3 linked regions of the Homo sapiens genome follow. The protein of the gene in region 3 interacts with the protein of the main gene of each other region in a pairwise test. Each region holds a gene or a part of one and is shown on either strand. Other genes may lie near its edges.

Evidence for each region.
Region 1: the proteins of APPL1 (region 3) and FSHR interact in a two-hybrid assay, tested with the Homo sapiens proteins (2 studies listed by BioGRID).
Region 2: the proteins of APPL1 (region 3) and MAGEA9 interact in binary tests that used the Homo sapiens proteins (3 or more experiments, as listed by UniProt).

Annotation. Positions count from the first base shown.
Region 1 is NC_000002.12:48,975,552-48,984,637, reverse strand, and holds part of FSHR (follicle-stimulating hormone receptor isoform 1 precursor), read left to right. Parts: intron 1-1,471; coding exon 1,472-1,540; intron 1,541-1,651; coding exon 1,652-1,726; intron 1,727-9,086. UniProt on the Homo sapiens protein: G protein-coupled receptor for follitropin, the follicle-stimulating hormone. Through cAMP production activates the downstream PI3K-AKT and ERK1/ERK2 signaling pathways.
Region 2 is NC_000023.11:149,776,403-149,785,893, forward strand, and holds the start of MAGEA9 (melanoma-associated antigen 9), read left to right. Parts: upstream 1-5,527; 5' UTR 5,528-5,593; exon of another isoform or gene 5,594-5,625; intron 5,626-6,080; exon of another isoform or gene 6,081-6,184; intron 6,185-9,354; 5' UTR 9,355-9,441; intron 9,442-9,491. Other genes in the region: HSFX1 (heat shock transcription factor, X-linked), read left to right, coding at 1-388. UniProt on the Homo sapiens protein: Not known, though may play a role in embryonal development and tumor transformation or aspects of tumor progression.
Region 3 is NC_000003.12:57,257,703-57,266,788, reverse strand, and holds part of APPL1 (DCC-interacting protein 13-alpha), read right to left. Parts: intron 7,762-9,086; coding exon 7,709-7,761; intron 6,945-7,708; coding exon 6,770-6,944; intron 6,673-6,769; coding exon 6,636-6,672; intron 6,162-6,635; coding exon 6,015-6,161; intron 1-6,014. UniProt on the Homo sapiens protein: Multifunctional adapter protein that binds to various membrane receptors, nuclear factors and signaling proteins to regulate many processes, such as cell proliferation, immune response, endosomal trafficking and cell metabolism.

The sequences.
Region 1 (9,086 bases), on a different chromosome or scaffold from region 3:
CCACTAAAAATTCTCTTCTCAATATTAGGCCTATATTACAAAAAAAAAAAATACCCAATTATTACACTTTGAATTTGGTCAATAAAAAATTGTGGTAATTGTTTTATAAGTACATAAAGTACTTATATAATATTTTTTATTTTTGCCTTTTGGCCCATAAAACCTAAACTTTACTATCAGGCCCTTTACAGAAAAAGTTTGCTGAATCCTGTATTTGATTCAAATCCCCAGGGATCCACATGCCACAGCTACCTCAGCAACTCCCACTATCCTGCAACAGTCAGGAGTCCAGATGTGCCTGGGAGAGGCTTTCTCAAATGGCATTGGGGGTGCATAGCCACTTCTTTGCCATCAGAACCCACCAATTGATTGTGAATGTTTTAAAAGATTTGCCTCGCCCCTTTCTGGATTTTTTTAGGTAATTGGTTTTCAAGAGGAGGAAAAAGACATACAGTTGTTCTCCTGTGATTTTAAGTGTTTTCTGGCTACCCATGGCAGCCCAGGAAAGAGAGTCCTGGATGCACAGGAGCTTCTCTGGGTCAGCTTTCTGTACAGTGTTATTTGCAAGCCCACTAAGCTGGACAGGGAAAAGAACCTGACAGCAAAACAAGAGCAGGTAGTCAGAGGTTCTTCGGGCTAAGCTCTCCTGACCTTGGTATCTGTTTTTGTTTTCAGATCCACTCAGGAGCAGAGCAAGGCAGAGCTGTAGCCCAAGGTGTCCTTGGGCTCCCCTGTCCAGGGAACCCTGCTCACTGACCTTCTTAGCGCAATCAGGATGGCTGTTCTACACCCATCTCCACCTCCCCCAGAACCTCCTCCCCTGCTCATTCAGATCACCTCACCCTGCCACAGCCCACATTCTCTGTAATTGATTTCTCTTCCTTTCTGGCTTAACCCAGAGCCACCTCCACAAACCTCCAATAACCAGGTCCCTATGGGTCACAGGAGATGTTCAGGTTGTCTGACAACTTAATTAGATCACTTTTGATGACAGCCAGGCCTGCTGCTGTGGGTGATCATGGGTGAAAGGCTTAAGGCCTTAGAGAAAGGTGACACAAAATGTTCTTTCTCTGTCTTATAAACACTTGTTCAATAATTGTACGATTCCTGTCCTTCAGGATGAGAAAGATCTGTCGCTCCCCGCATTGCTTCTCTACACACAAATGATGTGTGTAAAGACCTTACAGTTATAGAATCCAGGCTGCTCTGCCTAAGTATGCCTTTCAAACTTAAATTTCATTTAATCCTTTGAATAGGTAATACATGCAAGTAATACAAACTTCAAAAGTTACAAAAGATTATACAGCAATAAATCAGTCTTCCTCCCACCCGTGTCCCCAAGCTTTAAAAGTGGCATTTTCTTTATGCCACTAACCTGTGCTGTCTGCCCTTGCTCAGTGCTTCCAATTATGAAACCCGTGTATTGTTTGCATCTGACATTATTGGTTTTTTAATAGGCCTTTTATTTCAGATGGCTGAATAAGAATGGGATTCAAGAAATACACAACTGTGCATTCAATGGAACCCAACTAGATGAGCTGTAAGTAGCCCTGACTATTCTTCAAGGCCATTTAAAGGGAAATGGCTCTTACAACAGCAATATTTATGTGGCTTTGTGTTTTCCTTCTTCTTTCCTCAACCCCATCCCCAGGAATCTAAGCGATAATAATAATTTAGAAGAATTGCCTAATGATGTTTTCCACGGAGCCTCTGGACCAGTCATTCTGTGAGTAGCTTTCCCCATTTCTGTGTGTAAGAGCTCAGTTTGTGTAAGTTAGAAGTCAACTCTCTGCAGCTAGGGGAGAAGCTTCCAACACAGGGCTGGCCATCAAGTTCAATTTTTATTCGTGTCATCTGCAAAAATTTATAGAGACAATTTAAGGCTTATCCACGGTCTAACTCTCCATTAAAAAGCAACACTAATAATAACATGTAATGAGCACGTACAGAGTGTCAGATGGCGTTCTCAGAAGTTAAGATGCATTTTCTTGTTTAATCCTTATAATCACCCCCTGTGGTAGGAGCTATTATTCCCGTTTTACAGAAGGAAAAACTGGCTTCCCTGGAGAGGTTAATTCACCCACTCAAGGTTATACAAGAGTTACAGCAGGGATTTAAACTGATCTAACTCATGGTACAGACCCACAACCACTCGATCATGTGTCTCTTCCCTGGAAAGGAAAGCACAATTCTCCATCATCCTCAACACTCAGGAGGTTCCTTCAACCCAATGAGACCTATATACACATTATTTTTGGATCCTCTTTCCAAATCCCTTGGGATGCATTCCGTGCCTCACAGCCCTGCATCAGCACCCCTCCCTCTTGTCATTTCCTTACTTCCATCTTTCCCTCCAAAAGTGACTTTCCCATCTTCTCTTCTTACCTACACTGCCCCTTCCATCAAGCATCATTCCAAAGTCCTCTACCTCCTCAAGTCTCTCTGACAACCTCGCCATCAGTGACTTCTTCCCGTGGCTCTCATGGCCTTTAAGGCTTCTTTGGTGGGGGGACAATCTGCATCACAATCACAAAAAGGCTTTTTAAAAATGTGTTCCTGGGCTCTAAGCAAGACCTACTACACTTACTGACTGAAAAAAGTACTTCAAGATGAAGAAAGGAACCCAAAAGGAGAGAATGAGGTACAAGAAGGAATGGTGAGCAGAGCAATAGATAAACATGTTAATAAATCTACAGTTTTACTGAATGATCCTTATGTAGCCTGCCTTAAGTCAAGTCAGGCGTTTAGAAGCCACCTGCCTGAACCTCTTATTTGGCAGTTAGCATAGGCTACCATGTGTGGTTATCTACCCACCTACCGACCAACCATCTATCTGCATCACTTTTGTCTACACCAAATAGCTAATATTCTCCTTCAGGCTGGAACCTGTGTACCTCTAGAATTAGACTTGGTATGGAGAGTCAGAATTTTAAATATTTATTATTAATGATAAAGGGTGTGTTGTGATCTATATATGAGATTCTGCTGCTTTGAAGAAGAAATATACACTTCAAGGTAGATTTATCATCCTGACCATGTTCAAAGATTATTCGAGAATGCCTGGCTTGAGATAGGCAACCTATACAAATGGAGTATCCGTGTGATTAAAGCGGAGATACAGAGCAGACTGCCTTGGTTTAGACCAATTCTTTTACCTCTCTAAGCCTTGGTTTCCTCACCTAAAAAAAATGGCCAAAACAATACCTATTTCCTAATATTATTTGAAGCATAAAACACACACACACACATAAATATTTTTTCACTCATCAGATAAATTTTTAAGCATCAGTCTTGTGCCATGCAGGAAACAAAGGAAAGTTCCTCCTCATAGAAAGCTTATATTCTCATTGGGGGTGGGAATAGAGAGGAGTCAGGCAATACATTAAATATACAACTTAATATATCAAGTCATGATCTATCTATGAAGTACAAGGAAGGACCCAGGGCTAACAAATGGAGAGTGTTGGGCATATAGTCCATGTACTCAAGAATACAAAGTACTCAAAACTTGTACTGCTTAGTTCATGTACCCTGTTCTTAGAGTACTCGGGAGACAAATGAATTTTGACAAGTACTTTTGATGTCTTTGATCCCCACAATAGCAGCATGTCAGTTTCACTTAGCAAAAAGCCCTGAAAGTTTTGAATGTTCCTAAGAAGGCATCTCTATCTGTTCATGGCAGAATATGTCAGTGATGGGTGTGTTTATATATGTGACCTGTACCAGGTACAATATTGAATCTATAGCATCTTAACCTATCTGCTCCCGAGAATAATGAAGTTGGATGAGATCCCCCAACTCCTTCATTATCCAACTGAAGAAATCAGAACCCAGAGGAGAGTGATCTGTTAAAGATCACACTGCAACTAGAAGGGGCAGAGTCTGGACCAGAAACTAGGTCTTCTGCCTCACATTCCATGTATTCCCACCATACCATGTTGCCATAAATACGTTTAATTGAACATCTAAAAGTTATTCGGTGAGGCCCCCTGAAACTGGTTGTGAGCTAAAATAGAGAGGAAAATAACTATTAACACCAGCCTCCCAGCCTAAGAACACCAGTCAATGTTAGATAAACGTGGCACAGAAGAACATCTCCTGAGGTTGCACAAGCAGATTCCAGGCGAAGATACTGCACAATGTATCTCATAAGAATGTTTAACAGAGAACACAAAACTTGAATCCCCCATCTAGCCCCACTGTGAACGCAGGCAGGAAGAGAGCCTCTGTGAAAGCATCGGAAGCAATTCTACAAGGTCCTCAAGTTATAGGCCCATTGTTTTGTCCTTCTTACCACAGGAACACATCTGTCTAGAATTAAGGGAATACAATTTACAGAAAATCCATGGAATTAGGAAGCACTCCCCATGACTTAAAAAGGTAGAGAGTGATAATACATTCCCACATATTTCCATCTCAGTGCAGGATCCTGGCTGGAAGCCCAGCCTATAATTGCGAATTTCCTCTTTTCCCCCTGGGGCCAAAAGAATTGTTCACCTTAACATCAAGCCCCCCTTTCTGGGGCTTTCAGATCAGTCCATAGATGTTCTTCAAGCCTCTCCCCCTGCTGACCTGAGATGCAAGAAGACTAATAGCTTATTCCACATCTCACTTCTGCATCCAGATACACTAAACCATCTAAACCCTGGCCTGAGAGGTGCTTGTGTAGGTGTGCAGTAGACCAGCCCACCTCAGGTGATGAGTTAAGAGGTAAGAGTAGGAGTATGCGTAGGCTATTCAGACCACAGTAGGTGCAAATCATGCTGATCTTGACTGTGCCTTGGGTCAGATTGCAGTCCCCGCTCCCACACACACACACACACACACACACAAAGACTGTGATATATCTGCATGCGGGAGGTTTACCGGAGGGTGCTCTCAGAATGTACAGGGAACCCTTGATGGAAGCAGAATCAGGGTAATGCATTTGCAACAAAAGGCTCAGCTGATCCCATGGGGAGATCTGGAGTTAAGATGGTCCTTCAAAGTTGTACTGAATTAAGGTAAGGGGCAAGTCCTCCATATCAAGAATTATTGGGTGCAGGCTGTCCCTGGGGAGGAACCAAACTCCTGGGGAGGAGAAAGTCAGCTGAGGGCAATTCCCAGAGTAGACTCGGCTATGAGCCACCTCAGCTGTGAGTGGTTCTCAGTTGTCCTAGAGCAGCATGTTCAGAGTTGAGTAGGTTTTGGGGGGGTGTTTTTGTGGTTTTTTTTAATCACCCATGCTGGAGTGCAGTGGTGCCATCATAGCTGACAGCAGCGTTAAACTCCCGAGCTCTAGTGATCCTCCTGCCTCAGCCTTCTGAGTAGCTGGGACTACAAGCGTGCACCACCACACCTGGCCATTTTTTTTGTTGCAGAGACAGGGTCTCACTATGTTGCCAAGGCTGATCTCAAACTCCTGGCCTCAAGTTATTCTCCTGCCTTGGACTCCCAAAGCACTGGAATTACAGGCGTGAGTCATAACACCCAGCTCCCACCTTTAGAATTTTTGATTCAGTAGGTCAGGGTTGAGGCCTGATAACTTGTATCTCTAACATCTTCCTAGTGAAACTGATGCTGCTTGTCCAGAGTGCTCTCTGAGAATTACTGCCCTAGGACCAATATTGGGAATTGGGAAGCCTTGCTCAGTCTCCAAAATATCTCCTCCACAAGCCAAATGTGGTGAATCTTCCTCCCTCACTGGCTCAGTCCTTTTTCTCCAGTGGATATATGCAAGGAATTCTAAGAAAATTAAGGGGCACACACTCAAACTGATGATAGCTGCTTTCCTGAAGGCAAAATTTGTAGTTGAGGGAAGAATAGGGAGCCTCTGAACACCTGAGGGTGCAAGGGTGCACTGTTCCACACAAAGAAAGATAGATGCAGAGAAAGCCAGGGGCATACAAACAAGTTTCATCGAGTTTCAGAGGAGCAGCTCAGCATCCTCATTTCCCCCTTGTGAGTCTTGACCTTGAACATCAGCAGCCATCTGAGTTTTTACCTGATATTCTGAACTCACTCAAGGTTGTTTTTTTTTAAGCAATCGAACAATTGCTGTTTCTTTGGGAAACAGTTTCCTGTGGGGAAAATTTAATGCATTGCCTTTGCAGGCTGGAGCCAGTACAATCATATTCTGATGGTTTATCAAATTGATTTGGCTATAGCTCAGATTCATTTGATAGTTCAGATTCAAACACTGAGTTATTTGTATAAGAATGGTTCTCTTCCATTACCAGTGTACCCACAGTCCTATAGATAGTAAATTGCCTTTTTATCCAGCCTGGGATCATGAAAGAGAGGTCTTCTAGCCATCTGTCAGTGTAGTATACACCAGAAATGTGCTCTCACTTATGGAAATGATTGACCTGTAATAACATCTTTGCTGGGAAAAATAGAAATTGTTCAAATCAAATTTGTGGCACTGGCTATAACACACTTTATTAAATGGGGCACAGAGTGCTTTTTAACTCCTGCCTCTCCTGCCTCAGCCTCTTACTACCCTCCTACCCATGCAGTCTCTCTTGCTACTCTGTATCTCAAAATGAAGAGTACTAACAATGTGGAAACAATTTTAAATTACTAAGTCTCTTCTGTGCAAGTCATAATCCCATGGGGTATCCACTGGTCTTTTCAAGATTTAAATTCTCAAAACTACTCACTATCTGAATATAGCATGTGTTGCAACGTTAAAAGTGATATTTTTAAAAGAAAGACCAAAATCATTAGAAGAGACCAGCCTGAAAGATAAAGTTTAAAAACACCAGTCCACAACTACCCCTCCCCGCTTGTCCAGCCCACCAGTTCCAGGCACAAGGGCAGGAATAAAGTAAACATTCTCAAGCACTCATTGAGGGCATCAAGTCTTACATGACATACATTTAGTGGATGTTGATTAAACACCTACTGTGTGTCTGGCAAGGGGTAAGAAATATATGTGAAAACAGAAAACAGTACCTACTGTAATGCATCTGGCCAAGGGATGAATGTTACTCCCCAGTACAATGAGCACTGCAGAAATTTTCACAAATGGCTATAGTAATATACAGCAGATGCCTAATAAACCCTTGTCATCATGTCACACAATGACTTTTAACACGTGAAGTGATAGTGTGGGAGGAGACAGCCTCTGTCATCCTAGGCCTGAATTTCTGCAAAAGCCACGTTGTCCCCTTCCTACCCTCAGTCCTTTCCCCTTCCATTAGTTTACCAACTATTTATTGAACACCCACCATATGCTGGTATCAAGGTTCTCAAGACTAATCTTACAAAAATCCAGCTTTGAATAAACCATTCTTCTGCTCATATAAATCCTAAACTCTTCTGCATGACTATCAAGGCTCAGAGATCTAATCCCGTCCCATGGTTCCCTTTACTCCTCCAAGTATGATTGCCCAGAATAACTATTCTAAATAACCCTCCCTCACTGTGCCATGATTTATGTTCTGGGCCTCTCTCTAAGCCTATCTTTAGCAAATAGTCATTGTATTAGTCAAGGTTATTCAAAGACAGAAACGAGAGAGAGAGAGAGAGAGGAGAGGGGATTTTATTATTATTATTATATTTTAAGTTCTGGGATACATGTGCAGAACATGCAGGTTTGTTACATAGGTGTACACGTGCCATGGTGGTTTGCTGCACCCATCAACCCATCATCTACATTAGGTATAACTGAAGGAGACAGAGACACGAAAAACCCCTCAAAAACGTCAGTAAATCCAGGAGCTGGCTTTTGGAAGAGAATAACAAAATAAACAGACTGCTAGCCAGACTAATGAAGAATAAAAGAGAGAAGAATCAAATAAACACAATAAAAAATGATAAAGGAGATATCACCACTGATCCCACAGAAATACAAACTACCATCAGAGAATACTATAAACACCTCTATGCAAATAAACTAAAAAATGTAAAAGAAATGGATAAATTCCTGGACACATACACCATTCCAAGACTAATCCAGGAAGAAGATGAATCCCTGAATAGACCAATAACAAGTTCAGAAATTGAGGCAGTAACTAATAGCCTACCAACCAAAAAAAGCCCAGGACCAGACAGATTCACAGCCAAATTCTACCAGAGGTACAAAAAGGAGCTGGTACCATTCCTTCTGAAACTATTCCAAACAACAGAAAAAGAGGGACTCCTCTCTAACTCATTTTGTGAGGCAGCATCATCCTGATACCAAAACCTGGCAGAGACAAGAAAAAGAAAAATTTCAGGCCAATATCCCTGATGAACATCGATGCGAAAATCCTCAATGAAATACTGACAAACTGAATCCAGCAGCACATCAAAAAGCTTATCCACCACGATCAAGTCAGCTTCATCCCTGGGATGCAAGGCTGGTTCAAAATACACAAATCAATAAACATAATCCATCACATAAACAGAACCAATGACAAAAACCATATGATTATCTCAATAGATGCAGAAAATGCCTTCGACAAAATTCAACACCACTTCATGCTAAAAAGTCTCAATAATCTAGGTATTGATGGACCGTATCTCAAAATAATAAGAGCTATTTATGACAAACTCGCAGCCAATATCATACTGAATGGGCAAAAACTGGAAGCATTTCCTTTGAAAACTGGCACAAGACAAAGATGCCCTCTCTCACCACTCCTATTCAACACAGTGTTGGAAGTTCTGGCCAGGACAATCAGGCAAGAGAAAGAAATAAAAGGTATTCAAATAGGAAGAGAGGAAGTCAGATTGTCCGTTTGCGGATGACATGATTGTATATTTAGAAAACCCCATCATCTCTGCCCCAAATCTCCTTAAGCTGATAAGCAACTTCAGCAAAGTCTCAGGATACAAAATCAATGTGCAAAAATCACAAGCATTCCTATACACCAATAATAGACAAACAGAGGGCCAAATCATGAGCAAACTCCCATTCACAATTGCTACAGAGAGAATAAAAATACCTAGGAATACAACTTACAAGGGATGTGAAGGACCTCTTCAAGGAGAACTGTGAACCACTGCTCGAGGAAATAAGAGAAGAGGAGATTTCTTAGGGACATTGGCTCACATGGCTATGGAGGCTGAGGAGTCCATGATAGGCTATCTGCAAGCTGGAGAACCAGGGAAGCTATAGC
Region 2 (9,491 bases), on a different chromosome or scaffold from region 3:
CGGCGAGTGGTCAGAGGGCAGCCAGGCTCACGTCACTCCGGTGGCCGCTGTCCCTGGGCCTGCAGCGCTGCCCTTCCTCTATGTCCCTGGATCTCCCACTCAGATGAATTCTTACGGGCCTGTGGTGGCCCTTCCCACAGCGTCCCGTAGTACCCTTGCCATGGACACCACAGGACTTCCTGCACCTGGCATGCTGCCCTTTTGCCATCTCTGGGTACCGGTGACCCTAGTGGCTGCTGGGGCTGCACAGCCTGCTGCCTCCATGGTCATGTTCCCCCATCTCCCAGCTCTGCACCACCATTGCCCCCACAGCCACCGCACGTCACAGTACATGCCAGCTAGCGATGGGCCCCAGGCGTACCCAGACTACGCAGACCAGAGCACATAGAGGGCAGCATTTGGGCAGAATATGTGCTGGTCAATAAATGTGTCAGAAAATGAGTAATTTTCTGACTGCACAAAAAAGTCTTCATGGTCTCCATCCTTTTTCTTTCTTTGCAGTCCAGTACCCCCCTCCGACATCTTTGGCTTGCATGATAGAGACTTCAGCCTAACACGCCTCCCTGGAAAAGTGCCCAGGAGATACTCGAGCAGGTGCTGGGTTTTAGGAAGCCCCTCAGACATCCCGCCTCTACTCATTAAAAATTACCTGGAGCTGGCCGGGCGCAGTGGCTCATGCCTGTAATCCCAGCACTTTGGGAGGCCGAGGCGGGTGGATCACGAGCTCGGGAGATCGAGACTGTCCTGACTAACACGGTGAAACCCCGTCTGTACTAAAAATACAAAAAATTAGCCGGGCGTGGCGGCGGGCACCTGTAGTCCCAGCTACTCGGGAGGCTGAGGCAGGAGAATGGCATGAACCCGGGAGGCGGAGCGTGCAGCAAGCCGAGATCGCGCCACTGCACTCCAGCCTGGGCGACAGAGCAGGACTCCGTCTAAAAAAAAAAAAAAAAAAAAATTACCTGGAGTTGCTCGCTGAGTGCTAATTGTGCTGCTAGCATTGCCGGCCTAGGGTTCACAATGACTCTGTGTTACTGGCCATTCCTTGTCATGGCGGTGCCTTTATATAACAGGATCTTCACTTTACATACAGATGAGATCACGTCTGGCTTTGTCATTGGGTTAAAAAGTGCCCTTGATAGTTGTGGAGGTGACACATACTACCAAGGAGTCCTACGGGTTTGCAGTTTAGAGGGTGCTCATTAGTGTCTGGTGGACAGGATTTATGTTTGGCTTTTATGTCTGTACTGGATCTGGTGGGGTTTTTTACTTCCTTCCTTGATTCCCCCACTATGCCCCCACTTTTTCTTTCTTGTTTCCCTTCCTTCCTACTTTCCTTTCCTCTCCTTTTTTCTCTCTCTCTCTCTTTGCTTCCTTCTTTCCTTCCTTCCTTCCATCTCTCTCTCTCTCTGTGCTTGCTTGCTTCCTTCCTTCCTTCCTTCCTTCCTTCCTTCCTTCCTTCCTTCCTTCCTTCCGTGTCTCTCTCTCTCTCTCTTTCCCTCCCTTCCTTCCTTCTCCTTTCTTTTGGAGTCAAAAATTAATTTAAAAGATGTCATGTCATGTTTTAACTTAGGAAGCAGCCTTTTCTGCTCACTTGGGGTGTTCATCTTAGAACACATGCTATCATCGACGAACTTCTTTGACTGATCAGAGGAAATAGATTCAAGTTCTTACCGTAGACACAACTGGGCACAGACATCAAAAGAGCTCTGAAATCAGGGCGTGCAGAGAGCCCCAACACCCACACACCAGAACCCAGAGGTATCCCTGCCTGTGATTTTTAATTTGACAGTAGGTGGCAGAGTCCTGGGAGACGTGGGAAGAGGCCATAAGAGAATGCAGACATGGGAATGGATTAATCCAGAGTCCAGCCATGGTCTGCAGGTGGATCTCCCTGTCTCGGCCTGCTCACTTACAAATGGGTGCTCATTTACAAATCGGTGTGAATCACATTTCATCATTTGTGAGCTCCTTAGTTTCCAAGAAGTACAGTTTTCTCATGTGTTTCTTGGACTTTATGCATATGCCTCCAGAGTTTGAATCATGCAAAGATGCTGCCACTTAAAAACCTCTTTCCTACAAACTTACACCCCTCCGATCGTGGTTTTCCTGTGAATCTCAGCTGGGCACGATGGCTGACGCCTGTCATCCCAGCACTTTGGGAGACTGAGGCAGGTGGATCACGAGGTCAGGAGTTCAAGACCAGCCTGGCCAAGATGGTGAAATCCTGTCTCTACTAAAAATACAAAAAATAGCCGGGCACGTTGGCAGGCACCTGTAATCCCAGCTACTTGGGAGGCTGAGGCAGGAGAATCGCTTGAACTCAGGGGGCAGAGGTTGCAGTGAGTCGAGATCACGCCACTGCACTCCAGGCTGGGAGACAGAGTGAGACTCCATCTCCAAAAAAAAAAAAAAAAAAAAAAATACTGTTAGAAGAATGGAAAAAACTATATAGATGGAGAGAAAATATTAGTAATCTGATATCTGATAAAGAACTCATATGCTGAATAAATACCAAACATTTAACATTCAACCTTTGAAAACAAAGAATCCAACTAAAGATGTAAATGATTTGAAGACATTCACCAATGAAGACACGCAGAAATACACATACATTCACCAATGAAGATACACACATGAAAAGATGATCACCATAATTATTCATTAATAATGCAAATGTCAACAGCACTAAGATTCCTCTACCCACCTATTACAATGGATAGAATTCAAATACCTGAGAATATCAAATTCTGGAGAGGATGTGGGATTCTCATTCATAGCTGGTAGACAAGAAAAATGTTTCATTCACTCTAGAAGGCCTTTTGGCCCTTTCTTATGTAGTAAAACATAGACTTACCTTTAGATCCATCAGTCGTACTACTAGGTTTTACCTAAGTGAATTGGAAACTGGTTCTCACATGGAAAATCGTGTACACGAATGTATTAGTAGTTTATTCATAATCACCAACCAAGATGTCCTTGAAGAGGTGAATGGATAAAACCAATGGTACTTCCACAAACTGAAAGTGTATTCAAAGTTCAATCTACCCTCAAATATTCCAGGACAGGAAATTTTGGAGGCCAGTTCAGCCAAGTGGCAAGGGAAAATGAATCACCATCTTATCTCAACTCTTCCAATGCATCCAAAATGGGCAATTGTTTAACTCATTCTCCCAGGCTCGCTCTCCTAGATTCATAAACAGATGAAGGCACCCGAGCACTCATGAAAAGAATTTGTGAGGCAAGTGTTCACACACATCGCAGCAAATGTCATAAACAGATAATCACATATCCAACACAACAGTGGATTAAACGAACAAGCTGCCTGTATGCATGGAATAAAAATAGGATTAAATGTTAGAAAAAAATTCAATTCTAACTCCCTGCATACAAGATAGACTAGAAAAAAACATTCAGTCATGACAATGGGTACAGGAAAAGGCTCTGAAATGAATTCTATGTAAGTACAAATTAACAATGTTTAGCAAACTAACATTAAAAGGAACTTCCATTTCCTAAAATTGGCAGCAAGCATACATAAATGTGAAATGTCAGAAGCTCTGCCATTCACGGCAGTGACAAGTCGTTGACATATGCTGTCACCACTACCACCTACATCTGCAGTGAATATCAAAATGAAAAAGAGCCAGAGCTATGGATGTCAAGATGAAAATGAGATATGAAGACTGCAAAGAAATAGAGTATTTGTTAACTATATGATTATCTACATAGAAAATTCAAAGGAATAGACACATTGAATATTCAAATGAATAAAAGACTTCAGAAAACATCATACAGAAGGTCATTAAAGCAAAATCAAGAGCCTTGCCACACAAAAGCAACTTAGTATATAAAATAGAAAATAGAAAATGCACCATTCACAGCAGCATTAAAATCCAAAATGTAAATAAGAAGAGCCTGACAAGACCTTTATGGAAGCAACTGTGCAAAGTTGCTGATAGACTCAGGAAATAATCTCAAGTAAATGGATCTGTATACCATATTCCTTGATGGGGAACAGAATATGGCAAAGATGTAAATGCTACTTAAATTAAATACAGAGTGAGTGCCTTAACTGTCATTGCCAAAGTGACAACCAAGCTCAGGTTGCTGTGCTCTGCTCCCCAAATCAACCCCGGAAAAAATATAGGAGGGAAAAGATTAAAAAAAAAAACCCATCAAAACAGAGAAAGCCCTGGGGATGACTGAAGACTGTGCTAAACTAGTACTTGTGTTTTGGGTCCAGGGAGCAGCAGGGAAATCGAGGAGGTCTGTACCCTGCATAGATGGCAGATTACAGGATGGATAGGAGAAAGTGTTTAACATTCCACCCCACATCATCGCGCAATCTGAGGCAGCACCACAAAATCTGATGCCAGTAGCCCTGGAGTAATATCAGGACACCAGGAAATTTGAGTTGATTGAGACACTATGGCTCCAGAGTTCTGCTAACAACCACCTGAAACAAACTTAGTAGGAGAAGACCAGCCTTCCAAAAAATTATTATTTTAATGGAATATAAAGAATGAACTAGGAATAGAATAGTAAGTATGTGTGAAGGCCACATACTATGAGTAGATATTAATAAAATATGTGTGCATATATATAGTATAAAGTCTAGAAATACAAACGAATATGTAGCTAAAGATATATACATGTAAGTAAATATAAGATATAAAGATATATATGCGTGTATGTATACATATAAGCATAGATGTATATAATGTCTAAAACAGGTATGTATATAAACGTAGATATAAACAAAATGTACAATACCATATATAATGTACACATACAGTGTAAAATTTATTACCATGTGAATGAGAATTAAAATATGAAAATCGCTAATCTGGACTCTGCTGTGTTCGATACCTTCAAAACACATGGCTTCTCCAAATCTCTTGCTGCTGCTCAGCCTCTTCCGTGTAAAAATAAATCTTTTAGGACAAAAGGTTTGCAAAGTCTAGCTCTGGCTGGGGAGGAGCCCCCATGGGATGGTGTGCATCTTCTCTCACAGGTCCTACAATCACAGGTGCTGCAGCCCCCCAGGGAGCATCTAGCCTGGGACCCGCAGCCATTCTCTGCAACGCGTGCAGCTGGGCAAATGCTCAAAGGTGACATAAACAGATCATCTCCCACACATCACTTCATCAAAGAGCCAGGAGCCAGGAGGAGAACCCTCCTGAGAGGGGACTGAAGGTCCAACCTCCCCACATAGAGGGGCCACAGAATCCAGCTCAGCCCTTCCTGTCAGCCCTGGAAGACCCTGGCAATGTTGTCACCCCGACCACACCCCTCCCCTCACTGCCACCTCATGTGACTGGGAGTCAGAGACTTGGTCCGAGAGGAGCAGACCCAATGGGCAGAGAATGGGGATCGAGACCCAGGCATCAAGGTCAGGACCCCCTGAGGGATGACTGAGGGCCCCTATCCCCATCCCCACCCCTACTCCGCCAGAACCCGGTTCAGCCCCTACTGGCAACCCAGGGAAGCTCCAGGCTTGGGGGCCGGATGTGACGTCACTGACGTGCGCACTGGGGGTCAGAGAGAAGGGAGAGGCCTCCTTCTGAGGGGCGGCTTGATACCGGTGGAGGTAAGCTGGCCGAGGCTCTGTGAGGAGTCAAGGTGAGGTGCTGAGGGAAGACTGAGGATGTCCCCACCCCAGATAGAGGACCCGAAAGAACCAAGTGCCGTCTCTGCTCCCAGCCCTGGACCACCCGGGGGCCGATCTGGGGCTGACTTGTGAGGCTGGGCCGACCCCCTCCCTCCGCCGCTCAAGCTGCTGGGCACTCTGGAGTGAGAGCTTGGTGTGACCAGGGCAGGGCTGGTTAGGAGAGGGCAGGGCCCAGGCTCTGCCGGGCATCAAGGCCAGGACCCTGAGGGAGGCTGGGCCCCCCCAACCCAACCATGACCTACAGCCCCAGGTTCCCCAGCCCCATCCTCAGCTCCACTCTACACCCCACCCCACCCCACCCCACCCCACCCCAAACTCCACCCCACCCCCCCAACTCTCCCGCGGCAGAATCTGGTTCCGCCCCTGTTGTCAACCCAGGGAAGCCCCAGGTGCCCGGATGTACGGCCAGTGACTCCCACACTGGGGGTCAGAGAGTAGCGGGGGCCTCGCTGTGAGGGGCGGGTCGATATCGGTGGAGGGAAGCGGGCCCAGGCTCTGTGAGGAGGCAAGGTGAGACCCTGAGGGAGGACTCAAGACCCCCCGCCCCAGATAGAGGACCCCAAATAATACAGCGCCGCCCCTGTGCCAGCCCTGGACCACCCCGCGGGGTCGGGCGTATCAGGCTGGGCCCAGGCTCTGACTGGCATCAAGGTCAGAACCCTGAGGGAGGGCTGAACGCCTCCACACCCCTAACCCAGCCACCACCACCATGACCTACAGCCTCAGGTTCCCCACCTCCATCCTCACCCCCCCCCCCACTCCACCCCACCCCCAAGTCTCCCGTGGCAGAATCCGGTTCGGCTCCTGCTGTCAACCCAGGGAAGCTCCGGGTGCCCGGATGTAAGGCCTCTGACTTGCGCACTGGGGGTCAGAGAGTAGCAAGGGCTTGGTTCTGAGTGGTGGCTGAAGATCGGCAGAGGGAAGCGGGCCCAGGCTCTGTGAGGAGGCAAGATGAGACGCTGAGGGAGGACTGAGGACGCCCCCACTCCAGATAGAGGGCCCCAAATAATCCAGCAGCACCCCTGCTGCCAGCCCTGAACCACCCCGGGGGCGGACTTCTCAGGCTGTGGGCCACCCTTCGCCACCCCACCACTTAAGCCCCAGGGGACTCTGGGTCAGAGCTTGGTGTGACCAGGGCAGGACTGGTTAAGAGAGGGCAGGGGCCAGGCTCTGCCAGGCATCAGGGCCAGGACCCTGAGGGAGGGCTGAGGCCCCATAGAGGGAGTCACTGCCCCTGCAGTGGACCCTGGGAAGTTCCGGGCATGGCGGTCAGGCAAGCGGATCGTGATATCTGCATCCTGGGCTGACCGAGGGAAGGGGCTTGGTATCGTTAGCGTGGCCGCGGGAGAACAGAGGGAGGGCCCAGGTCCTGCTGGGAGACAAGGGAGGCCTGAGGGGACCCAGTACCCCAGGACAAGGGGCCCACCCCGCCCCTATCTGAGACCGAGGCCCCTCCTCATTCAGCCTCGGGAATCCGACAGATGGAGACTCAGGTCCACAGAGGGGTGGGGCCCAGCCCTCTAGGAGACCAGGGAAGGAACAAGACGGAGGACAGAGGGGACCCCGGAGTCCAGCTCAGTGGGGATCTTGGCCTGGGCGATCCCGGGCACGGTGGCCGCATGTGGTGCATTGTGGCTGGTGGGATCGGGTGTCAATGGGAACAGGGCTGTGGTATGAGGAGTGGGGCCTCAGGTGAGCAGAAGGAGGAGTCCCAGAGGCCTGAGGAAGGATTCACCAGACCTCTCATCCCAGACCTAGGAAACCTGCCCCTGCCGTCAGTCTTGGAAGGCCCCAGGCAGGACGGTGAGGAAGGGAAGTGCCCCCTCCACCCCCAACACACACTTTCTCAAAGAGGGTCTAAGGGAGAAATTGGCCTTGGTCTGCAAGACTCACCTCTGGTTCAGCAAAATGGAAGGGGCCAGATTCTGTCAGAAGCAAATATGAATACCTAGAGGACACCCAGACCGACGAGGCCCCCTGGAACCTGCTCCTTTGGTCAGCCTTGGGTATCTCATGCATGAGTGACCATGAGGTGGCCCCTCACTTCTGCCTCCCGGGTCTCCGGGAGGTGGGGGCCTTGGTCCGAGGGGTTTCCTCAGCTCAGCAGAGGGAGCCACACCTGGTCAGCACAGGGTGGAATCCAGGGTCTTCCAGGAGTGACGGGGAGGAAGTTTGGTGAGGACTGAAGGTAAGAAGGTACCTCCACGCTCTCAAAAAAGAAAGGACCTCACAGACACTGGTGTCACCTGTTCTCAGCCCCAGGTGGCCCCAGGCAGGAATGGCATGAGGCATGCTCTCATTTCTCCCACGTGACTGGGGGTGAGAGGTCTCAGGGAGGTGAGTACCTTGATCCCAGGGGGCACTGAGAGATCCAACAGAGGGCTCCACACCTGGTCAGTAGAAGGAGGACTCCCAGGATCAGCAGGACCCAAGGTGTGCCCCCTTCATGAGGAATGGAGGTACCCCCAACGCAGAAAGAAGCCACCCCACAGAGTCTAGGTGAACTCTGTTCTTAGATCTGGGGGCGGGGGGGGGCCTGATCAAGGATGGTGCTAAGTGGCAAGCTCATTTGTACCACGGCAGGAAGTTGAGGAACCCTCAGGGGGATGAGGCGTTGGTGTAAAGGGAGATGTCTGCTCATCTCAAGGGTTTGAGGGTCGAGGAAGTAGAAGCCCCAGCAGGAGTAAAGATGAATAACCCGCAGGAGGACTTTGGAACACCCACCTCATACCTGAAGGGTTCAGCTGGTGGGGTCAGCCCCGGACACCCCACGCAGGGGTGACATATGTGGGGCCTCCTCACCTCTGTTTCTGGATCTCAGGGAGGTGAGGACTTTGTTCTCAGAGGGTGTGTGTGGACAAAACAGGGAGGCCCTGTGTTCGACAGACACAGTGGTCCCAGGATTGGAGAGCAGTCCAGGTGAGGAACCTAAGGGAGGATCGAGGGTACCTCCAGGCCAGAGAAACTCTCAGATCAAGAGAGTTTGCCCTGCCCCTACTGTCACCCCAGAGAGCCCGGGCAGGGCTGTCTGCTGAGGTCCCTCCTTTATCCTGGGATCACTGGTGTCGGGGAGGGCTGGCCTTGGTCTGAGGGGGCTGCACTCACGTCAGCAGAGGGAGGGTCCCAGGCCCTGCCAGGAGTCCAGGTGCAGACTGAGGGGACCCCACTCACCAAACACAGAGGACCTAGCCCCACCCTGCCCCTTGTGTCAGCTGAGGGAAGCCGCTGGGTGGATGGACTCCCCTCACTTCCTCTTCAGGTGTCTCCTGGAGATAGGGCCTCAGGTCAACAGAGGGAGGGTTCCAGACCCTGCAGGCATCAAGATGAGGACCAGGCAGTATCCTCACCCCAGGACACATGGACCCCATTGAATTTAGACATCTCTTACTGTACTTCCGAGGAAACCCTGGGCAGGTGTGGGCAGATGTTGGTTGGGGCATGTCCTTCTGTTCCATATCAGGGATGTGAGCTCCTGATCTGAGAGACTCTCAGGCAAGTAGAGGAGTAGAGTCCAGTCCCTGCCAGGAGAAAGGTCAGGGCCCTGAGTGAGCGCAGAGGGGACCATCCACCCCAAAAGTGTGTAGAACTCAAGAGTGTCCAGCCCGCCATCTTGACAGCACTGAGGGACCGGGGCTCTGCCTGCAGTCTGCAGCCTAAGGGCCCCTCGATTCCTCTTCCAGGAGCTCCAGGAAGCAGGCAGGCCTTGGTCTGAGACAGTGTCCTCAGGTCGCAGAGCAGAGGAGACCCAGGCAGTGTCAGCAGTGAAGGTGAAGTGTTCACCCTGAATGTGCACCAAGGGCCCCACCTGCCCCAGCAC
Region 3 (9,086 bases):
GACCCCTCCCTCTCACCATACACAAAAATCAACTCAAAATACATTAAAGACTTAAACATAAGACCCAAAACTATAAAAATACTACAAGAAATTATAAGGATCAGAGCAGAAATAAATGAATCTGACATGAAGAAAACAATACAAAAGATCAACATAACAAAAAGTTGGTTTCTTTGAAAAGATAAAACTGACATTTAGCCAGACTAAGAAAAAGAAGACTCAAATAAAATTGGAGATTAAAAAGGTGACATTACAATTGATACTGCATAAATTCAAAGGATCATTCGTGGCTACTATGAGCAACTACATGCTAGTAAATTGGAAAATCAAGAAGAAATGGATAAATTCCTAGACAAATACAACCTACCAAGATTGAACCACGAAGAAATCCAAAACCTGAACAGTCCAATAACAAGTAACAAGATCCAAACCATAATAAAAAGTCTCCTGGTAAAGAAAAGCCCAGTACCTGATGGCTTTCCTGCTGAATTCTACCAAACATTTAAAGAAGAACTAATACCAATCTTACCCAAAATGTTCCAAAAAATAGAGGAGAAGGGAATACTTCCAAACTCATTCTACGAGGCCAGTATTACCTGATACCAAAACCAGACAAAGACATATCAAAAAAAGAAAACTACAGGCCAATATATCTCATGAATATTGATGCAAAAATCCTCAACAAAATACTAGCAAACCAAATTCAACAACACATTAAAAAGATCATTTATCATGACCAAGTGGGATTTATCCCAGGAATGCAAAGATAGTTCAACATATGCAAATCAATCAATATGCTACATCACATCAACAGAATAAAGGACAAAAACTATTTAATCATTTCAATTACTGCTGAAAATGCATTTGATAAAGTTCAACATCCCTTCATGATTAAAAACCCTCAAAAAAACTTGGTATAGAAGGAATATAGCTCAACATAATAAAAGCCATATATGACAGACTCACAGCTAGTATCATACTGAATGCAGAAAAACAAAAAGCCTTTCCACCTTTTAGATGGAAGATGAGTAATCAGGTAAGAGAGGAAAAAAGGCATCCAAATTGTAAAGGAAGAAGTCAAACTATCCTTGTTTGCAGATGATATGATGATCTTATATTTAGAAAAACCTAGACTCCACCAAAAAACTATTAGAACTGATGAATTCAGTAAAGTTTCAGGATACAAAATCAACATACAACAATTAGTAGCATTTCTATATGCCAACAGTGAACAATCTGAAAAAGAAATAAATAAAGTAATCTCACTTACAATAGCCACAGATAAAATTAAATACCCAGGAGTTAACCAAAGTGAAAGATCTCTATAATGAAAACTACAGGCTGGGCGCAGTGGCTCAGGCCTGTAATCCCAGCACTTTGGGAGGCCGAGACAGGTGGATCACTTGAGGCCAGGAGTTTGAGACCAGCCTGGCCAATATGGTGAAACCTCATCTCTACTAAAAATACAAAAATTAGCCAGGTGGTGGTGGCGCATACCTGTAATCCCAGGTACCTGGGAGGCTGAGGCATGAGAATTACTTGAACCTGGGAGGCAGACATTGCAGTGAGCCGAGATTATGCAACTGCACTCCAGCCTGGGCAATAGAATGAGACTCTGTCTCAAAAGAACAAACAAAAAAAACAAAAAACTATAAAACACTGATGAAAGAAATTGAAGAGGACACCAAAAATGGAAACATATTCCACGTTCATGGATTGGAAGAATCAATATTGTTAAAATGTCCATACTACCCAAAGCAATCTATAGATTCAATGCAATCCCTATCAAAAAACCAATGGCATTCTTCACAGAAATAGAAAAAACAATCTGAAAATGTATATGGAATCATAAAAGATTCAGAATAGCCAAAGTTATTCTGAGCAAAAATAACAAAATTAGAGAAATCACATTACCTGACTTCAAATTACAATGCTACAGAGCTATAGTAACCAAAACAGCATGGTACTGGCAAAAAAAAAAAAAAAAGACACATAGACCAGTGCAACAGAATAGAGAATCCAGAAACAAATCCACACAACTACAGCGAACTCATTTTTGACAAAGGCACCAAGAATATACATTGGGGAAAAGACAGTCCCTTCAATAAATGGTGCCGGGAAAACTGGATATCCATATGTAGAAGAATAAAACTAGACCCCTCTCTCTCACCATATACAAAAATATTTTTTAAAAAAATTTTTTTTTATTTTTTTTATTTTTTTTTAAATTTTTTTAAATATAATTAAAATGGATTAAAGCCTTAAATCTAAGACCTTGAACTATGAAACTACTACAAGAAAATATTGGGGAAACTCTCCAGGACATCAGTCTGGGCAAAAATTTCTTGAGTAATACCCCACAAGCACAGGCAACTAAAGCAAAAATGGACAAATGGGATCTCATCAAGTTAAAAAGTTTCTGCACTGCAAAGGAAACAATCAACAAAGTGAAGAAACAAGCCACAGAATGGGAGAAAATATTTGTAAACTACTCATCTGACAAGGGATTAATAACCAGAATATACAAAGAGCTCAAACAACTCTATAGGAAAAACCTTAATCTGATTTAAAACTGGGCAAAATATTTGAATAGACATTTTTCAAAAGAAGACATACAAATGGCAAACAGGCATATGAAAAGGTCCTCAACATCACTGATCATCAGAGAAATGCAAATCAAAACTACAATGTATCATCTCACCCCAGTTAAAATGGCTTATAGCAAAAAGGCAATAACAAATGCTGGGAAGCATGTGGAGAAAAGGGAACCCTTGTACACTGTTGGTGGGAATGTAAATTAGTATAACCACTATGGAGAAAAGTCTGGAGGTTCCTCAAAAAACTAAAAATAGAGCTACCATATGATCCAGCAATCCCACTGCTGGGTATATACCTAAAAAAAGGAAATCAGTATATTGAAGAGACATCTGCACTCCCATGTTTGCTGCAGCTCGGTTCACAATAGTTAAAACTTGGAAGCCACCTAAGTGTCCATCAACAGATGAATGGAAAAAAAAAAAAAACAACAGATGAATGGATAAAGAAAATGTACACACACACACAATGGAGTACTATTCAGCCAGAAAAAAAGAATGAGATTCTGTCATTTGAATGGATGATACATGGATAAAGAAAATGGATAAAGAAAATGTGGTACTTACATACAATGGAGTACTATTCAGCCATAAAAAAGAATGAGATTCTGTCATTTGCAATAAGATATATGGAACATGGAGGTCATTATGTTAAGCAAAATAAGCCAGGCACAGAAAGACAAATATTGCATGTTTTCACTTATCTGTGGGATCTAAAAATCAAAACAATTGAACTCATGGAGCCAGAGAACAGAAGGGTGGTTACCAGAGGCTGAGAAGGGTAGTGTGGGGATGGGGGGTGGGAGGATGGTTAATGATTAAAAAAAAAAAATAGAATGAATAAAACCTGGTATTTGATAGAACGGGGGACTACGGTCAATAATAATTGTACATTTAAAAATAACTAAAAGAGTATAATTGGATTGTTTCTAATACAAAGGATAAATGCTTAAGGGAAGGAATACTCCATTTTCCATGATGTGGTTATTACGCATTGCATAAGTGTAGCAAAATATTTCATGTACTGCATAAATATATACACCTGGCTGGGCGAGGTGGCTCACACCTGTAATCCCAGCACTTTGGGAGGCCGAGGCAGGCGGATCATCTGAGGTCGAGAGTTTGAGACCAGCCTGACCAACATGGAGAAACCCTGTCTCTACTAAAAATACAAAATTAGCTGGGCGTGGTGGCGCATGCCTATAGACCCAGCTACTCAGGAGGCTGAGGCAGGAGAATCGCTTAAACCCGAGGGGGCGGAGGTTGCAATGAGCCAAGATCGCGCCATTGCACTCCAGCCCAGGTGACACAGCAAGACTCCATCTGGAAAAAAAAAAAAAAATGCATACACACACACACACACACACACACACACACACACCCCTTGTACCCACAAAAAACGAAAAACAAAGATCATCCTACTTTCACCATTTTAGCTCTAATTAGTCTCTTGAGAAACTTTGTTAGTACGATATTCTCAATAATTGTTCTATTAAAGGTTCTTTTTCCAGCTGGGTGTGGCAGCTCATGCCTGTAATCCCAGCACTTTGGGAGGCCAAGGCAGGTGGATCACTTGAGGTCAGGAGTTCAAGACCAGCCTGGCCAACATGGTGAAATCCTGTCTCTACTAAAAAAATTAGCCGGGCATGGTGGCACACAACTGTAGTCCCAGCTACTTGGGAGCTGAGGCAGGAAAATCACTTTAATCCAGGAGGTGGAGGTTACGGTGAGCCAAGATTGTGCCACTGCACTCCAGCCTGGGCAACAGAGCAAGAGTCTGTCTCAAAAAAAAAAAAAAAAAAAAAAAAAGGTTATTTTCCATAGAAAAAAAAAACACTAGAAGAAAATGAAGGGAAAACTCTCCTGCACATTGGTCTCGGCAAAGATTTTATGCCTAAGACCTCAAAAGTATAGGCAATAAAAATAAACAAATGGGACTTAAACTAAAAAGTGTCTGCATAGCCAAAGAAATAACAGAGTAAACAGACAACCTGTTGAATGGGAGAAATTATTTGCAAACTGTTCATCCAACTGGGGACTAATATCCAGAATATACAACGAACTCAACAGGGAAAAAATCAAATAATCCCACTTAAAAGTATGCAGAGGATATGAATATGCATTTCTTAAAGGACACAAAAACAGCCAACAGGTATATGAAAAGATGCTCGACATTACTAATCATTAGAGAAATGCAAATCAAAATGACAATGAGCCATTCTTACCCTAGTCAGAATGGCTATCACTAAAAAGACAAAAAATAGCAGATGTTGGTGAAATGCAGAAAAAAGGGGAACTCATACACTGTTGGTGGGAACATAAACTAGTACAACCACTATGGAAAACAGTATGGAGATCTCTCAAAAAACTAAAAATAGACCGGGTATGGTGGCTCACGCCTGTAATCCCAGCACTTTGGGAGGCTGAGGCAGGCAGATCACGAGGTCAGGAGATCAAGACTATCCTGGCTAACACGGTGAAACCCCGTCTCTACTAAAAATACAAAAAATTAGCCGGGCATGGTGGCAGGCACCTGTAATCCCAGCTACTCGGGAGGCTGAGGCAGGAGAATGGCGTGAACCCAGGAGGCAGAGGTTGCAGTGAGCCAAGATCGCACCACTGCATTCCAGCCTGGGCGACAGAGTGAAACTCCGTCTCAAAAACAACAACAACAACAAAAACTAAAAATAGAACTACCATTCGATCCAACAATCCCACTACTGGGTATCTACCCAAAATTAAAGAAATCTGTATCAAAAGGATACCTGCACTCACATGTTTACTGTAGTACTATTCACAATAGCAAAGATATTAAGTCAATCTAAATGTTCATTAACAGATAAATGAATAAAGAAAATGTGGTACATATACACAATGGAGTACTATTCAGCCATAAAAAGAATGAAATCATGTCATTCACAACAACGTGGATGGAACTAGAAGTCATTATCTTACGTGAAATAAGCCAGGCACAAAAAGACAAATATCACATGTTCTCACTTGTATGTGGGAGCCAAAAAATTGATCACGTGGAGGCAGAGTGTGGAATGACAGACAACAGAGACTGGGAAGGCTGAGTGATGAGGAAAGGGGGAGGATGAAGAAAAGCTGATTAAAGGGTACAACCATAAATTACGATAGAAAGAATATATTTAATATCTGACAGCAGAGTAGGGTGACTATACTTCACAAAAATGTATTGTACTTGGATGATGGACACCCTAAATACCCTGACTTGCTTACTGTACATTCTATACATGTAACAAAATTCACATGTGCCTCATAAATTTGTATAAATTGTAAAGAATTCAATCAGTAATTACTAACTAATTTAATTTGTAAGAATTTAATTATTATTAAATCTTAGTAAGAATCAATTAGTAAGTGGTTATGACAGAGATATTCTGAAAAGCCATGTACCTTTTCCCCCTCATTGTTTGACTCAAATATATAGCAGACTGATGACAGATTACTTTCACTTCTCCCGCTTGATGTCCGAAGAACAAATCCAAAAAGGCGCTTATTTTCCTGGTGTGTAGCATACAAAACTACACAAGGTAATGGAAACTGCCACAGAAAACATCAGAAGCAAACATGAGATCTTACAAGTCATTACAGCAGCACTTGTGACAAACTCATATGCTAAGTTCTAAAAATATAAATATTTTAATATATTAAAGCCAATTATTTTAACAGACTTGTAATGCAGAAACAAGTAATGTCATATTTGGTTTGAATTAACAAGCAGAAAAAGGTTGTTGAATATTACATTTGTTTTATTAGTCATTAACACATTTTACAAAGTCAAAAAGAACTGTGTTAAAAAAATTACAAAAAGAATTGTGTTAATTCTTTTAAGTTACATAAAATGTTCAATGACAACTTTTTGGAGATGGCCATAGACTTAACTACAACAGCCAAAGACCAATCATAGCTGATACTATCACACTTGAATATACAGGATCAGGATTATTATCAAGTTGTAAGATGTGTATATATACAAAGGGACCTAAAACAAAGCTTAAATCATGTGGAACTCACCGTGAGCCTTGTAACTTGTGTCTGTGGATCAATTAACCTAAAATAATAATTTAAAAATTGGAAAACAAATTTTAATTAGGCTGAAATCATGTAAATGTTTTTTCTACAGTTTTTTAAGGGAGGGTTTTACTTACTTTAAACAGTCACAAGTGACTAATAAATGCGATTCTGTCATACGAAAGATGTTATGGATGGCCCGGGCAGCTAAGATTTGGCGCATAGTTTCATAAACAACATCTGGATGGTCATCTGATTTCACCTCCATTGAACCAAGGAATCGGACAATAAATAACTGATGAAGAATAGAATCTATAATAGAACAAGGTGTATTACATATTTTTTTTTTACTGTATAAATTTACATTTTATTTTTTTCGCCATATTTCTTTTCCAAAAGAATAAAATACACTGCCTCCTTTTAGGTTTTCTAGTGAAAAATTCAACAGCCTAAGGGAGACATTTCAAAATAACTCCTAACTACAGTATTCCAAGTTATAGGAAAATTAGGGTTTCAAATTCAAATAGCTAAAAGTAATGCTTCAACAACTGGCAGTTCTGAGGCCAGGCGTGGTGGTTCACACCTGTAATCCTAGCACTTTGGGAGGCTAAGGCAGGAGGATCCCTTGAGCCCAGGAGTTCGAGACCAGCCTAGGCAACATAGGGAGCCCTGTCTCAACACACACACACACACACAAACACACAACAACTGGTGGTTCTTACAGCATTTCTGTAAGTTTAGAATTCAAATAAATAGTTAGTGGCGGAAAAACAAAATTTATGCTCCAGTACCAGAAGAGAAACATCAGCTGTTAGGAAAAGCTTGAAAGGTATCTTAGGCACTGAATTTGACTATAAAGTCAAAAGTATGAGAGTCTATCGTTTTGTATGAATCACAACATCTTAAGTCAGATTAAGTTCTGTTGCTTCAAGTGTACTATAAGTAAGTAGAGGAAATTCTGAAGTAAAGATAGCATTAAAACTGAGCTTAGTAGCAGAGCAAATATAAACAATAAATTATTCACAGTTTGCTGAGAAGCAGTTCTAAAATATATGAATGCTGCACATCTGTCTTACCTTCAGTTTCAGATTTTGTACTTCCTCCAGATTCTCCAAATGGATTTGTACGCCTAAAAAGTTTAGAAGAAAATATGAACACATGGTCAGTTACCATGAGCCACATAGAAGAAATCTAATTATTAAAACCACAGTTAACATTTAAAAAAAAAAAGCTCTAAAATGCCCCATCCTATTAAGAAACACTATTGATCACTAAATTACTATGATGAAGGCCTCTGCCCTCACACACTAACTGATCAATGTTGGTGCACTTTAGAAGACACAGATGAATTGGAAGTTTAGACATACACAACAAAAAATCAACATAATAAACCATGTTGCAAAAGTTCTTGAATTTAAATAAGCTAGCACAGAGGAACACTTATTTAACTGCAATCTTAGTTGCTTGAGAAAAATGCCAAGAATGTCCTGGAATTGTAAAAACTTCTTTTTAGGTTCTGTAAGTACATGTTACAAGTTACCTATAATCTAGTTTTAAACCTGTATTTCTTAAAGCGTAAGTAACAATGCAAAAAGAAAAGTGAACTGGAGATGGAAGCTACCTTCCTCCTTAGTGTGCATGGCTTGTGGCACACCACAGTGAAGGAAGAAAAGTACAACTCAAAGTAGGTTTTGGAGGGCTGGGCATTGTGGCTCACACCTGTAATCTCAGCACTTTGGGAGGCCGAGGCAGGAGGACTGCTTGACCCTGGGAGTTTGAGATCTGCTAGGGCAACACAGGAAGAACCCGTCTCTACCAAAGAAATTTAAAAATTAGCTGGGTGTGGTGGCGCACGCCTGTGGTCCCAGGTACTCAGGAGGGTGAGGCAGGTGGATCCCTTGAGCCCAGAAGGTCAAAGCTGCAGTGAGCTATGATCATGCCGCTGCACTCCAGCCTGGGCAACAGAGTGAGACCCCATCTCAAAACAAAACAAAGTAGGTTTTGGAAGCAGAGAGCTAAGTGGTTCTAAAAAAACACTGACAGTAAGATAACAGGAAATTAATCTCTTTAGTATGTGTCCTATTACATCAAATGCTAAGTGTATTTCTGTGATCAAATGTAAATGACTTTTTCTGGGTCACAGCCATGTATATCCAAATTAATATATTATCAGTTTATTAGGTGTCCACTCTACTTAATAAATGATTTGCCTTAAGTCATGTTTCCTTCAATCACAGCCAAGGAAAAATTTTAACTGCTTTGGTGAGAATATTCATCATACAACTAAACAATGACTCATTCATAATTCATAATAGTGATAATGTTTTAGTAACTTCCTGAAGATTTCTTATTCTGGTATAAGATAATATTTTCTAATAAACCTATATCACATGTATTACCCTCAAGAATTTTTTAAAAATTGTCATGACCTAAAGACAGCTATCAACTTTCTTC